Linked DNA regions of Homo sapiens. The protein of the gene in region 3 interacts with the protein of the main gene of each other region in a pairwise test. Each region holds a gene or a part of one and is shown on either strand. Other genes may lie near its edges.

What was found. Proteins that work in one complex are often made in the same cells at the same time.
Region 1: the proteins of TCF7L2 (region 3) and FBLN1 interact in a two-hybrid assay, tested with the Homo sapiens proteins (one large-scale study listed by BioGRID and IntAct).
Region 2: the proteins of TCF7L2 (region 3) and KCNE4 interact in a two-hybrid assay, tested with the Homo sapiens proteins (one large-scale study listed by BioGRID and IntAct).
Region 4: the proteins of TCF7L2 (region 3) and CCNG2 interact in a two-hybrid assay, tested with the Homo sapiens proteins (one large-scale study listed by BioGRID).

Annotation. Positions count from the first base shown.
Region 1 is NC_000022.11:45,509,336-45,512,916, reverse strand, and holds part of FBLN1 (fibulin-1 isoform D precursor), read right to left. Parts: intron 1-3,581. UniProt on the Homo sapiens protein: Incorporated into fibronectin-containing matrix fibers. May play a role in cell adhesion and migration along protein fibers within the extracellular matrix (ECM).
Region 2 is NC_000002.12:223,050,710-223,055,023, reverse strand, and holds the start of KCNE4 (potassium voltage-gated channel subfamily E member 4), read right to left. Parts: upstream 2,835-4,314; 5' UTR 2,750-2,834; intron 2,217-2,749; 5' UTR 2,194-2,216; coding exon 1,681-2,193; 3' UTR 1-1,680. UniProt on the Homo sapiens protein: Ancillary protein that functions as a regulatory subunit of the voltage-gated potassium (Kv) channel complex composed of pore-forming and potassium-conducting alpha subunits and of regulatory beta subunits.
Region 3 is NC_000010.11:113,149,236-113,152,816, reverse strand, and holds part of TCF7L2 (transcription factor 7-like 2), read right to left. Parts: intron 1,835-3,581; coding exon of another isoform or gene 1,820-1,834; coding exon 1,694-1,819; intron 1,093-1,693; coding exon 933-1,092; intron 485-932; coding exon 377-484; intron 1-376. UniProt on the Homo sapiens protein: Participates in the Wnt signaling pathway and modulates MYC expression by binding to its promoter in a sequence-specific manner. Acts as a repressor in the absence of CTNNB1, and as activator in its presence.
Region 4 is NC_000004.12:77,160,160-77,163,740, reverse strand, and holds part of CCNG2 (cyclin-G2), read right to left. Parts: intron 3,021-3,581; coding exon 2,770-3,020; intron 2,262-2,769; coding exon 2,183-2,261; intron 2,093-2,182; coding exon 1,994-2,092; intron 1-1,993. UniProt on the Homo sapiens protein: May play a role in growth regulation and in negative regulation of cell cycle progression.

The DNA of each region.
Region 1 (3,581 bases), on a different chromosome or scaffold from region 3:
GCATGGTGGCTCAAGCCTATGATCCTAGCACTTTGGAAGGCAGAGGTGGGAGGATCGCTTGAGCCCAGGAGTTCAAGCTTGCAGTGGGCCACGACTGCACCACTACACTCCAGCCTGGGGGACAGGGGGAGACCCTGTCTCAAAACAAAAAAACTAAAAACAAAAGAACACCCTGAGGATCACAGCTCCCCCGTGTGTCCTGTGAGGGTGGGGCGATGGGAGTGGGGAAGGGCCTGGGGTCCAGCCCCACCCTGGCTGTGCCTCCCGCATCCCTGCAGGGACTTCCAGCTGCTCATTTGCCTGGGGATCCGGTCACCTGTGGATATCCAAACACCAGGTGTCCTGAGCTTCGCTGCCCCATCACACAGGCTGGGGACCATCTGAGGCCCACAGAGGCACCTCCCACCTCACTGTCCTATCCACCTGCTCATCAAGTCCTACCCCATGTGTTGCCTTCTCAGTGCCTGCCCAGGACTCTCGGCCAGGCTGGGGTGGGGGCAAAAAGGGGACTGGGGCTAACAGATCCCCCACGCCAACTCCACGCCTCATAGGTACCAAGAGTTCTGCGGGGGTCAACAGCATCCAACCAACTGCCTGATCAGTCAGGCCCCCCACCTTCAGAAGGGTGTCAAATCAAGGCCATTTGTACACAAACCCTAGGGCAGCTGAGCAGCCCTGGAACACTGTGAGTCAGGAGGATAATGTGGGCCAACCGAAGCCACGCCTGCTTCTTCCATCCCAGACCGCCAACAGCTGTGAGCAGCTCTGAGATCCAAAAATTACCTCTGACCAGTACCACACTGGACACCCACCCAAGCAGAACAGGCACTCGCTGGTAACTCGACACTGGGCTGTGGGGGATCAAGAGAGAAGCAGGGCCTCAGGGGACCTGGAATCTTCTCTCCCAGATCATTTCCTGTTGTTTCGGAGGAGTTTCAATCAACCAGTCTCAATCTGACCCCTGCATCTGACCATGTGAGTTAGATCCAAAGCATAATATTAGATATAAACCAAGAGCAAACTCTTGCAAAATCTCGTTAACCTTCAACTCGAATGTTCCCAGGGAAGGCAACGCTGCGGGTTAAAACTGCTCAGCCTTGAATCCAGCTCCCTCCCTTACTAAGACTCAAGGAGGCTCACTTCCTTCATCTGTAAAAATGGGGGAAGAGGCCGGGAGCAGTGGCTCATGGGTGTAATCTCAGCACTTTGGGAGGCTGAAGTGGGCAGACATCACTTCAGTCCAGGAGTTCGAGACCAGCCTGGCCAACATGGTAAAACCCAGTCTCCACTAAAAATACAAAAATTAGCTGGGCATGGTGGCGGGCACCTGAAATCCCAGCTACTCAGGAGGCTGAGGTGAGAGAATCACTTGAACCCGGGAGGCAGAGGTTGCAGTGAGCCAAGATCGTGCCACTGTACTCCATCCTGGGTGACAGAGTGAGACTGTCTAAAAAAAAAAAAAAAGCCAGGCATGGTGGCTCATGCCTGTAATCCCAGCACTTTGAGAGGCCGAGGCAGGTGGATCACCTGAGGTTGGGAGTTTGAGACCAGCCTGACCAACATGGAGAAAGCCCGTCTCTACTAAAAATACAAAATTAACCAGGCATGGTGACGTATGCCTGTAATCCCAGCTACTCGGGAGGCTGAGGCAGGAGAATCACTTGAACCCAGGAGGCAGAGGTTGCAGTGAGCTGAGATCATGCCATTGCACTCTAGCCTGGGCAACAAGAGCGAAACTCTGTCTCAAAAAAAAAAAAAATGGGGGAAGATTGATGAGATAATCCAGGAAAAGTGCTTACATTAGCACACTGACCACAGGAAAAAACAGAAGCTTCAAAATTAAACAAAAGGAAAAGTTATCACACCAGGATTGGGAGAACATTCTTTTTCAAAGGAACCACACACTCCTCCAGGCTGACACGGTGCCCGATGGCCAACACGCCACCACATCCACCACCTCTCTTCAGGAGAGACACATGCCTGCCGGAGTAACTGGTGCAGATGGATGGAGCTGGCTCAGTTCACAGGCCTCAGATACCGTTTGTTGCCTGGGACAGCTGCTAAAACTAAATTTTTTCCAGGTGAGTTAAACCTCCATAAAGATTATGGTGTAGATCAGCGGCATGCCCCATGTTCCAAGGCATGCAGAGAAACACAGGTCACATGGCCTGCGGGGACCATGCCCTGGACACCCAGGAAGGATATGGCCACGTGCTCTTTCTAAGACTACAGATGCTCAGAGAGATTCTGTACCACTCCTTGGGTGGAAGCTTCCAGAATGTCAGCCTGCTAGCTGTAAACATCGCAGAAGCTTTGGGCAATGCCTGATCCCATCCCCAGCAGCCTGTGAGCCACGAGGATCTTAATTCCCAGGTTGCTGAGCAAGCAGACTGTCACAGAGGGGAGACTGGGGGCTGGGAACCGGGAGGCCTGGAGTCTGCTTCTGATCTCATGGTTGAGAGTTTTCCCACCCGGAGCAAGTCCGGGCCTCAGTTTTTTCATTTATAAACTGAATGGAGGATTTGGCCTGCAGTTAAGAGCAGGCTTCCCCAATCCCACCCTGTGTAAGGGCATTGCTCTGGCAAAATTTCCACTGGGTTGCAACAAAATAGGGTGAAAGCAAAGCAGGATCCAGGGACCTCTACAAAGCCGGCCCGATTCCATCTACAATACTGTCTTTTATTGTGAGACCGCGTCCTTCCAAAATCCGGGGCATTAAAATGTCCCCTACCTCTGTGAAGTGGTGACGATATGAGATGGTGGTTGAATGGGTGTCTGTTTTTTATTTTAATATCCTCATCGGGCAAATGAGGATATTTTAAGTTGGCAAAGCTCCGTGAATAGCTGGGGATGAAGTAAAGGCATGTGATCAGAAGCCAGCCTCAATTTCCTTGATTTCCTCTGCTCAAGCTCAAAAACTCAGAGGCAGCTGAGGGCGTCAGGAGTTTTTAAAAGTGAATGGGAGCTTGAGGCTTCATCCTGTGTGCCTCCCGGACTCACCACACAAAAGGATCATGCCCCCACCCCACCTGCCCCACAGCATTGTCTAAAGCTACAGCAAAGAGTTGGAGTGGCCTCCGTGGTGTCCAGAACCAAGGAACCGAAAAGCCTGAAATGCAACAAGATGTCAACCACAGAGACCCTGATGGAAAGTTCCAACCAAACAGGACTGGGCGACTCCACCCAACCCCCACCTGCACCCTGCCCCTCCTGAGTAGCTGGGATTACAGGCGCCTACCACCACGCCTGGCTAATTTTTTGTATTTTTAGTAGAGACGGAGTTTTACTATGTTGTCTGGGAAGCCACCAGGGGTCCAGCCAGATTGGCCTATGTCCCTGCATCCCTTACAGTTCCAGGATGAGGACAGACTCGTGTCCCCTCTTCAAGACCACCTGGCCTCTGCAGGAGGAAGCAGGGCGAACTGGAGCCTGCTCTTAGGGCTCCTGGCCCCATCCCCAACACAAGACCTGACTGTGTCCACTGCTGAGCCTGTTCCCAGCATCTGTCATGGAGATGACAGGGGTCTTGGATGGTGAACCAGCCGGGAGGAGGCAGCAAGAGAGAAGGAGCAGAAGGTACC
Region 2 (4,314 bases), on a different chromosome or scaffold from region 3:
TAGCTGGGCGTGGTGGCAGGCGCCTGTAATCCCAGCTACTCAGGAGGCTGAGGCAGGAGAATCGCTGAAACCCAGGAGGTGGAGGTTGCAGTGAGCCAAGATTGCACCACTGCACTCCAGCCTGGGCAACAGAGCGAGATTCTGTCTTAAAAATAAAAAATAATAATAAATAAATAATTTTTTTAAAAGTTTTTTTAAATAGATTTAAATTTGACCTTTTACTTCCTCCTTGTCTTTAAGGGCCTAACGGATCTGCGAAACTGTTGACCACAGGAATACTTGGAGACATTGGAAGCATTCCTGTGTGTTTTCCTTTAGACTTTGCTTTCCCTTAGCTGGGAGTGTTAACATCACACATTCTCCAGAGAACTTTGCAGAGGAGAATGTGGTGTCTGCCTCTTTCCTTCAGTCCTGGGAAAACTACAGCAGGGCTGGGTTGGTAGCTTGCCCTGAATTCCCCAGTTATATGTGTTCTGAATCTCCAACTGCTCCTTTAAATCAGCAGATCCTTGTTCAGACTAACCGGCCAAAGGGGAAGCATTTGGTCCAAGCTTCCTCACACCAGGCTGTGGAATATTTATCACAGAGTCCTAAAATCTAAAGACATCCTCCCAACCCCCTGGGGATGGAGATCGTCGGGAGCCTCATGCAGACAGCGAGCTTCTTGATGACATGCCCGGGACCACACAGCAAATGAGTGTCAGGGCTCGGGATCAGGAAGCACAGAACTTGGAGCCCAGCTTTGTGCAATCTCCGCCTGAGTATGCCCTTCTAGGTCTCAGCTACGTGACGAAATACCACATTATGTCCTCTCCCAGCTCAGAAAACTAGGCTGGGAAACTGAGCAGCAGCAGAGCTAACGGCTTGGCCTTGTTCAACCCCACTTTACCCCTTCTAGAAAGATCAGGAAGAGTCTCCTGAACCACCATCGGGAGTGCAGGTTAGATTCTGGGGAAGCTCTTCTGATCCAAAGAACGTCATGCCATCATGTGATGCTGCATGGTCACAGGTCAGAGTTCAAGGTCATAAGTTAGACAAAAGGTCAAAATAGAAGATCATCTCTTATAACCCCGGCCAATGTTAACAGGTTTAAAAGTTACTTTTTTTTCTTATAGTGTGCAAATGGGCTGGGTTCAGATCTCCAGCTTTCTCCCATCAAAAATCCCCCTCTAATCCAAAAGAAGCTTGTAACCCACTGTGAAGGAATGCCACAGGTACACAGTAGAGATACTTACAGCCAATCAGATCTAGAAGGACAAAGCTCTAGGCAAAATAGCAAATCACAACTAGTCTCTCAGCGTGTCCTAAGCATTCGGCAGCCCTGGGAACAGGCAGACCCTGCAGGAGCTACCCAGGGCATCCAGTGAGAAAATGGCAAACATATCATCCCGCCAAATTCTGATCAGAACCCCAACACCCAGGCCCCAAAGTCAGTGTACGCGCTGCGCATCTCCGCGGCTTTTTCAGTGGTGGGTGCAAACCACAGGCACCTCCCGGACTCCTTGGAGGTGCTGGTTCCGGCTGAGCCTAGTCCCCCACCCCACCCCGAATCAGGGGTTTACCAAGGGTCTCTTCAAAGTGGCAGCCGCACTGTGAAAGTGAAACCAGACACTTGAAAACTGTCTTTCCTCTCTCTAAGGTTGCTGGCTGATGGAGCCACCGGCAGGGGTCCCGGGGGTGCTAGGAATTCTGATGGATGTTCTCCGAGGACCCTTCGCTGCTCTCGTTGAGGGGCGTCTCCGAGGTCTCCTCCAGCTCATCGTCTGCCCCCTCCTCCTGAATGGTGAGGTGCACGTCCGGGGAGGAGGACTCGGAGCTCACGCTGTCCCCTTCCATGGAACAGAGGGTGCAGGACAGCGCGGGCGCCACGCTCTCCTGCAGCATGTTCAGCATCAGGGGCACCTGCACCGACCTCAGGCCCGACACCACAGGCAGCGGCTTCATGGCCTCCCCCCAGAGCCGCTCCTCGTCTTTGTACAGCAGCAGGAGGCTGGACTTCTTCTCCCGCCTCTTGGATTTCATGTAGCCCAGCATGATTCCGATCAAGAAAATGCCGTAGAAGGACATGACAACCAGAATGTAGAAGTACTCGTTGCCATTGCCGCTGCCGCCGCCGGCCGCACGGGACTCCAGGGGGCTGCTGGAGGCGGCGGTGCCGGGGTGCGTGCTGTTCAGAGGCTCCATTTTCAGCATTGAGGCTGCCTCCACAGCAGGGGCTGGGGAAAAAGCCGCAGGTTAGAACTCTCCCCCAGGTCCTGGGCACAGGGAGGTGGGGGAGCACGAGGTTTGTGGAACTGCAATACCAAAAAAGCTTAAAAGTGCATGAAAGAAATAGCATAAGAGGGTTCGCCAAACAGCTGACAAGAGTGAGCTATGAGGGCTTGGAGTGCACGGGAGAGAAGCCCGGGAAGGTTCACTGGGAAAAGTAAGAAGGACTTTTTTTTTTTTTTTTAGTGTACACATTTGTCCTGTTTGTAGTGAGCAGTATTACTTTGATTAAAAAAAAAATCAATGTAAGACAGGAGCATACAGTAAATAGTATCTTTAAAACTGGGAAACGTATTTTAACTGAGCAGAAACAAAGTTTACATTGTGTTTCCAAAACCAAACTATTTTAAATTCAAAACAATGTTTCCTTAGAACAAAGAAAAGCAGGAAGAAAATAAAGGAAAAAAATTCATCTATTAATTGGCAAAAATGTCCCTCTTTCAAATGTTTCTGAAAGCAAAGTGTAGCCTTGCTGACTTACCAAGGCTGACAGTTTGTCCCAAGTTTTGAATTCCCAAATCGTCCAGTCCAAGAGGGTTCTTCTGCTCTGTCCGGCTCTGCGCTCTGACAACTCCGCTGCTGCAGTTGGGATATATAGTCAAGAAGTGCATCGTCACGTGCTCTGGGAGGAAAATTTACAACAGAGATTGATCGTGGCAGAGTGAGCAGTGAACTGAAAGCACTGCAGTTCAACTCCCTGAACTTTGCAGCTGTGAAAAGTGAAAAAGACTGGGAAGTGGGAACTGCTCCTCAAGCCCCAGCACCCGGCCAGGGTTTTCAGGTAGCGGTGACGATGAGTGAAAAGAGGAGAAAGGGATGTGCTGTGCTGGAACCGTTACCCCAAAGTCCGCGCTCACTGAAAATTAGCTCATGCTTCGCGCGGCTCCTGGGGAATAACCATTATTGGGCTACAGGTTTTCAGAGGCAGCTGAATCCCATAATCTGGATGAAAGACAGTTGGAAGCAAGTGCGGGATTTACAGTCAAGGAACTGGGGCTTCGGTTTCAGTTCTTCCACTCCTTATGCAAATAAGATAAATCCTTCCTTAACCTCTCCGCACCTCACATTCCTCGTCTGTAAAATCGTTGTGCCTGGCGGGGGGGGGGGTCTTCTGCAGGTAGGATTATATAAACCACGTGACCTTTTGAGACCCTTTCAGCTTAACCCTTCTAAGATTGAAGGCTGCCTGGTGTTGCTTAGCCCTCTAAAAGCAGAGATTCTAGCTGCCTTCCACATCAAGGTCACAAACCTATGTTTATAATAATTTTTTTTTAAAAGCTCCCACATTCTTTTCAGTGGTCTGCATTAAGTGGAAACATGTTGTCGTAAAAGATACTATGGGCAGGTTTTGTTCCGTCCTGCCATACACAGCTGCTCCTCTGAAGCCTCATGCGGAGGCTATTGACACGTCTCTTTGCTGTCTCTCGTAGGTCAGGGGAGGAGCAGGACTATTTCAGAGTGCAACTAAGCACAGTTCAAGTTTTTTAAACCTCGGTAGACCCTGTGTTTAAATGGCTGCTGTGATCAAAATTGGAAGAGGAATTGCAGGCTTTAATGTCAGTCTCTCTGCTCCCTGGGCTGCTTATTCTGAGGCTTTCATGCTAAGTGGAAGGAAACTGGGAGAGATCCACTCCCTCCAGTTGTCTGTGGCCTGTGGATTGCAGCCAGACTGTCTTGTGGGCCAACTCTAAAGGAAACATCTCTCATGGTTCTGCTGTAGTCAAACTGACGCATGCGACATCCACCTGACCTGCTTGAACATATATAGCTTAGGCACTGGAATTTTCACTGCTGCTACAGGAACCCCCCTGGGTTTGCACCTGATCCTGATTCTAAGAAGACACCTGGAGGAAGAATAGGAAGATGAACTGAATGCTGCCATTTTTCCCACTTGACTACTCACCTGTGTTCATCCATAAATCCCCAGCTGGCACTGGAGGTACCAACCATCGACCACTCCAGCATCACGATCATCCATACAGTGGAACTGTGCTCACACCAGTAAAGATACCCTCACCATTGTGTTAATACGTAAAACCCTCCATA
Region 3 (3,581 bases):
ACACCACTGATCACTGCTGAGGAGCCTGCGGAACCTAATCCGGAACATAAGGTCCTTTGGGTGTATCCTAAGAGCCTTGCCTCCTCTAGAAAGGAGACAAGCACCAAATCAACCTCATTGGTCCTGAGCTGGAACACTGGGACTGCAGCCTCCTCTCTCCACCCTGAAGAATGACTGTGAGCTGATCCAACCATCCACACGGGAAGCCCCTCCCTGCAGTTTAGCGATCCAGGAAGATGCTACCAGTCCCCAAAGCGGGCAGATTGGATGGTCCTGAGGCCCACCCTAGTCAAGTGGCAGGTCCTGTTCTCTTTGTCCGTATAGACGCACAACACAGCTCTACAGACTCCAATCCTAACGAAAATGATCCACCTACATAGTTATCCCGCGCGGACCAGCCGGGGTACAGTTGCATATGAAGCTGTCGCTCCTTCCGGGCCAGCTCGTAGTATTTCGCTTGCTCTTCTCTGGACAGTGCATGCCACTGGAGGGGACGTGGGGTACAGATGAGAAAGACATGAACAAAGAGAAAAGCATGAAAGAACATCACACATTACGCCAAGGTCAGGGGATAAATAATGCTGCCTTTTTGGGTGAGTCCGTCCAGAAATGGTATAATCTGTACATACTGACCGTCGGCTGGGTCCTGGCACTAACAGGAATGTTTAGACAAAACTTGATTTGTTATCTATGTCATTCTGTCATTTGCTCACTCGCTCGGGTAGGGGAAGAGCATGGCTGTGGCTGTTCTGAACGCTGAGTGCAGAATAACTAGTCCTGACTCAGTGAAGGCCATTCAAGGATTCAGAATGTGGCTGAAGGGCAAGAATTCTCCAAAGAAATGGGGACAGAGACATTCTGCCACCTGACCTGCTGCACTCTGGTCCCTCACCACCCGCCCCCCGCTTCTCCCTGAGAAGGGCGTCACCTACCCTCCGCCCAAGGATCTGGTTGATGGCCGCGCTTTCTTTCAACGTGCACTCAGCTACGACCTTTGCTCTCATTTCCTTCATATACAACATGAATGCATTAAGAGGTTTCTTTATGTGGGGCTTCTTCTTTTCTTCTTCCTTTTTGGAGTCCTGATGCTTTCTGGAGATAGACAAAACAGACGCAACCCAATAAACAAGGTCGTGGTCCAACTTCCTCCATGGCAGGGAACGTATCTCCTTGTCTCATAACCCCCAAGCCTAGCAGTTTTGGATTAAAAAGCATGCTTTTAGTTCTTCTGCACCCCGGAAAATGGAACAAAAATAGCTTGGGGAGGGGTTGGGGGAAGAGAGGGATTTTGCAATCACTTCCTCAAGTTTCACAAATATACAATTTTCCCAAGCCAGAGGGGAAAGCACATGGTTGCTGTCTTCACCTCGGCAGGGTTTTCTCCTGCTTGCAGAACAAAGCTCTAAATGTTCAATGATGCGGTTAGGGGGCAGGGAAGTGGTTGCAAATCCCAGTGTATCCAAGTACACACACAAAAAACAGTTCTGTTCTAACCCACGGTGGTACAGTGAGATTCTGCCACTGTGCACTCTCTCTCTCTTTGTAAGGGAGTGAAGAGCCCACACAGGCTGGGTATTGGCTGCAGTCAAACCAAACGAGGCCAACCTTAGGCAGAAAGCCACCACCCAGCAGCTGCAACAGGCTTGCAGAACACTGCGGCTACGAAGAAGGTGAGAAAAACAGCAACACTTACGAACTATGGAGTGAGCCGACATCACTCTGGGACGATTCCTGTTTGACTGTTGGTGTGACTATGGCCGGATGCGGAATGCCCGTCGTGTGTAGCGTATGATGTGGTGGGACCATATGGGGAGGGAACCTAGAAGACAGAAAGCTGTGTAAATCGTCAGAATCAAAATGAATGAATGAGGAGGGATGTGTACACACAATTAAAAAGAAAAAAAAAAACAGCACGTAACACTCACATGAAAGCAACCCAAGGCATATGAAACCTGTCAGCATTAATTAGCGATAAATTAAACATAATGATTCTCATAATGTCATTAAAGCCAATTCATTATTGCTACTGACATAAGACATTATGATTTTTAACATCTTTAGCAAAAGACAAATTCAACTGACGTACTTGGGCGGAAAAGTGGGCTTGGACTACCTGCCAGAAATCGCACGTCCACTTGTTTTTTGAGGCATTATTAGTGGCATCTAAGAAGACAATTTCCTAAGTCCTAATCAGCTCTAAAATGAAAGGTGAAATCTTTTGTTGTATATTGACAGCTAAATAAAATATTAACGTGGTTGAAATATACATACATTTTTGACAATGCTGTGCAAGCCTCATTAGGCCTCATCCTGTTGATGAAGTGCAATACAATTTTTATTTTTCTTTTGTGCTGTGTCCCATCATTTGACAGGAATGGGAGAGAGTGAGGCAGGAAGACAGGGAAAATTCAAATAGTTCCTATTTGGTTCATATCATAAGTCATGGACATTTTAAATAAGTTTCTATCCCTTTATGGAAAGATGCAAAAAAAAAAAGGAAAGGAAAGGTGCACACACACACAATAAACCTTTGATTCTGATTTGTATGCCCTTTCTCCTCTAAAATTTAGGATTCCTATATCACTTTTACTTCATATGTTGTCTAGGCATCATTAAGAAGTCTTCTAAATGATTATCAAAATTATAAATGAAAGATACAGTTTGTGTTTTCTCCTCTCATGCTGCTCATTTTTTGGACAGTTCTCTAAGGCACATTTTAGGACCTGAATTGGCATTTCCCAACCAAGTACATTAGCCAGGACAGAAAGAGCTAATCTCAACCTACTCTTGGCCCATCTGCAGACTGACAACTGGATCAAACACCTTTCTCATTTTCAATTTTGCGTGGTGTCACCATGATTTGTACTGGGTTGGAAGACTCACCCCTCTTCAAGCAACATATCCTACTATAGAAAAAATAGTGAGGGACAGAAAGGGCAGAATCCCAAAAGTAAACAATATGGCAGCCTCCTGCTCCAACCTGGCAAGGTGATTCAAGTGAGCAGATGGGAAGCTGTTCAGATGAAGATCATGGCAACTGTTGCTTTCTTAATAAGTCCAAACCAAAGCAGTCCAATGTACCATCCAAGGAATAACAATCTGCTCTTTACAAAGCCAATTCTGGTGGGAACTAGAGGGCCTAATGAGGATCGATCACGACAATTCTTCCAAAATGATTCTGTATGTATTTACAAAGTTTTTTCCAGAAGCGGGCTAGAGATAGTTTCCATTCAGCCAAAATAAGGTAACAAACATTAATTTGAAAAATAATAAAATGATTAAAGTACTAACTGAATCTACACAGATCAACAGAGGAAGGAAAGTTAATGCTGATTCTTGAAGAAGGCCCAAGCCACAGTAGACATTTCACTCAAAAATCCCACGCTGACGTGGCCTTTCCTGCCACTGCCTTTACAAATTTAAGCCAGTAGTGAAGACTGCATGACATGATTTTAAAAATAACAACAATACAAGTCCTTCGAATGTATCAAAAAAAGAGAGAGAGAAGGAAAATGTAAGGAAACAAACATGCTAACAACCTTCATCTTCATCCCCTTCCTCTCAAAATAATGTGAAAAACA
Region 4 (3,581 bases), on a different chromosome or scaffold from region 3:
TAGTTCCGCCACCACTGGGCAGTGCTCCAGTTTATTTCTTTTTTGTTTTTCTTTTTACGTATTTTTTTCCCTCCTCCTTCGGAATGCCTTCAGTTTATTTCAACGAATCAATTTTCACTGAAGATGGTTCCAGCTATCACTATCAATAAAAAGTTCAGATAAAAACTAATAAAATCATAACTAAAGCAAAAAGTTATCTGTTACAAACAAAATGCTTCACATGCACATATTTTCACCAGAAAACAGAAGATCTATTTTCTTGGCTTCCCATTTTCACCTAATGTAGCTACATCCTAACCCACTTGTAATCTGGTTTCTACCACTTCCTTCTCACTGCTCTACTGACATTACCTCTGACACACCCAATGACCTTCAATTTTCATTATATTGGATCTCTTATAAAAATTCAATACTCCTGACCACCTCCTTAAAAACCTCCTTCCAGTCTGACAGTGCTTCTACTTGTGGGGATGTACCTTTCTTCACTTGGCTCCTAATGTTGGGGGGAAAGGCCAACGCTGAAAACCCCAGAGCTTCAACTGACCCCTACAAAAAGGATTCCACAGCTTCTTACCGTTTCAACTACTGCTTCTTCATGAGAAATTCCAAACCTCAATCTCTAACTATAGTTTATCTTCTTATTCCAAAACGCCAAACACCTACTAGACACCCACCTGTGTACACAAGCATCTAAAATCATATTGCTCTCATCACAAATTAACTTCTCCCAAATTTCCTGCCAATTATGCTAATATTATATCCACCATTAGGTACAAATCTTGGTCATTCAAGACTCCTTGCCTCATTTCCATGCTTGGCTTCCAAAACCACTGTTTGAGTTGGACAGCCTTACTCCTGCTTGTGACTACCACCTAGACATTGTACCTGTAAGTCTACCCTAAAATGACTTTTATATCTGTCTAGTCCACCAATTTCTTGGCCGTTAAGCCTTCGCTGAAACTTTCACTGTCAAAGATTCTTTTGCTCCAAACAGGCTCCCAGTCATAGTGTTTCTCCTAGTCTGCCCTATTTCTTTGCTTAAAAAAAACCCAAAGTAAGCCGGGCACAGTGGCTCACGCCTGTAATCCCAGCACTTTGGGAGGCCAAGGCAGGTGGGATCACTTGAAGTCAGGAGTTCAAGACCGGCCTGGCCAACATGGCGAAACCCCATCTCTACCAAAAATATAAAAATTAGCCTGGCATGGTGGTGAGCACCTGTAGCCCCAGCTACTCGGGAGGTTGACGCAGGAGAATCACTTGAACCCGAGAGGCTGAGGTTGCGGTGAGCCAAGATCATGCCACTGCACTCTAGCTTGGGCAACAGAGCAAGACTGTCTCAAAAAAAAAAAAAAAAAAAAAAAAAATCCCAAAGTACTCTCTATATTCACTATTACCTGGCACCAAGACACAATAACAAATGACAGAACACACCACTTCATGTTAAGTTCCTCATTTCCCCAACTAGACTGAGAGTTTAAGAAAAAGTATTGTGCTTTTGTTTTATATCTCTTTGTGATGGTAAGACTTACTTTTACTTAGCTGGCCTAAAGGATTTGAAAAGACATTCGGGTTTAAAACATCAACATTGCTGGTGTTAATTGATGCTGCTGCTAATGGGATGACAGTTCAGTCCTACAGGTGTGATGGGATCCCATCCTATCCCATTAGTGTTTGTTCTGAGTCTACTACCTAGTATGCATTTCAGAACAATGCATATGTGGCAATGTAACAGCTGTACTATCATATGGCATGATTACTACAGAAGGGGCACCTATATGCAGAAAGAAGCTGAGCTAAGTGACCAGGTTCCCTTCCGGATTAATACTGTCTGGGTCAAAGCTGCATTTTGAGAACTTTAACACTAGAGATATAAGAAAAAAAACAAGTGTAAAAGTTAAGAGTCCCATAAAGTATTACTTAATGTTTAAGTCACCACAGAAAAAAATAAACATCAGGAAAAAAATTTGCCTTAAAGAATAATGACTGTAATTACCTTGGAATGTTTTTTAACTAGCAAGAGAATTTCCAGTAATTCAACAGATTTCAAAGTTTCCACTTCCAAATTGAGAAGGCACAAGGCTAATACAGATGGCTGTAAGAAAAAAGAAAAAAAAGAAAAATATTTTTTAAAAATTCAAAATACAAACTGTGAGATATATACATAAGCAAGGAATCGACTTACTTTTGCTTTTGAAAAGATGAGTCGGCAGTTGCAAGCTTTCAGCTGAGCTTCTAGTTTATCAAGGCTCAGTATTTCTTTCCTATACAATGCAAAGAACAAAGATTTATTAAACTTCCAAAGATTTAAATGATTTTAAATGATTTTAAATATTTGCCAGGGCCAGACGCGGTGTCTCACGCCTGTAATCCCACCACTTTGGAAGGCAGAAGCAGGTGGATCACCTAAGGTCAGGAGTTCGAGACCAGCCTGACCAACATGGAAAAACCCTGTCTCTACTAAAAATATAAAATTAGCCAGGTGTGGTGGCGCACGCCTGTAATCCCAGCTACTTGGGAGGCTGACGCAGGAGAATCGCTTGAACCCGGGAAGTGGAGGTTGCAGTGAGCCGAGATCACGCCATTGCACTCCAGCCTGGGCAACAAGAGCGAAATTCCTTCTCCAAAAAAAAAAAAAAAAAAAGATTTACCAATAAAGTCAAAGTTGAAAGTTTGAAGAAGGTAAAAATATAAATTTCATTGCCATTCCAATTATTTACTGTTAGCTATAGCAATGTTCAAAGTACAAAATGTATCTTTAATCCCACTGACCTTTCTGAAGTATGACAAAGTATAATAGTATGGTATAAGTGCAAAAAGTTTAAGGCAGTAGTAGCTTCCAATTCATAGTGCAATTTTTCTGAAATTATTTTTTCCATCCGTTTTATGTCAGAAGCAGTACATTTACACTGACTAATCCGGATCACATCATGAGTGGATGGAATATTGCAGTCTTCTTCAACTATTCTAGCAGCCAGCAAAAAAGAACAGACTCCAATGCAAGACAAATGTTTAGGTTTCACCTGAGAAAAAAACAAGAGGCTTCTTTTAACAACTGTCACTTTGACTTAGCAGATACTTAGAATATTGTAATGATGCTCCTATTCTTAAGACAGAACACAATCAAGTTGTTTCTCTTATATGTACTGGCTCTTTACCCACAATTATACACATTTTCACATTTTAGACGTTCTCGACCTCCCCCCCCCCCCAAAAAAAAAGGCAGCAGGGAACAGTGGCTCATGCCTGTAATCCCAGGACTTTGGGAGGCTGAGGTGGGAGGACTGCTTGAGGCCAGGAGTTTGAGAACACTCTGGCCAACATAGCAAGACTATTCTGGCCAACACAGCAAGCCTCCATCTCTATTTAAAAAAAAAAAAAAAAGTTTTTTGAACCTTTAAATTATGTAAATTCAAATGCAGGTACAAAAATTTCCATGCAGGTTCAAAAGCTAGATTCCTAGCACTAAAGTATAATTTGTATTTCAGACTTATGAAATTCATAATATAATCTCTCCCAAAATAAATTAAGCTTTTTAACACCAAAAAAAAATGTACTGGGATATTAAAATATTTTATACTTAT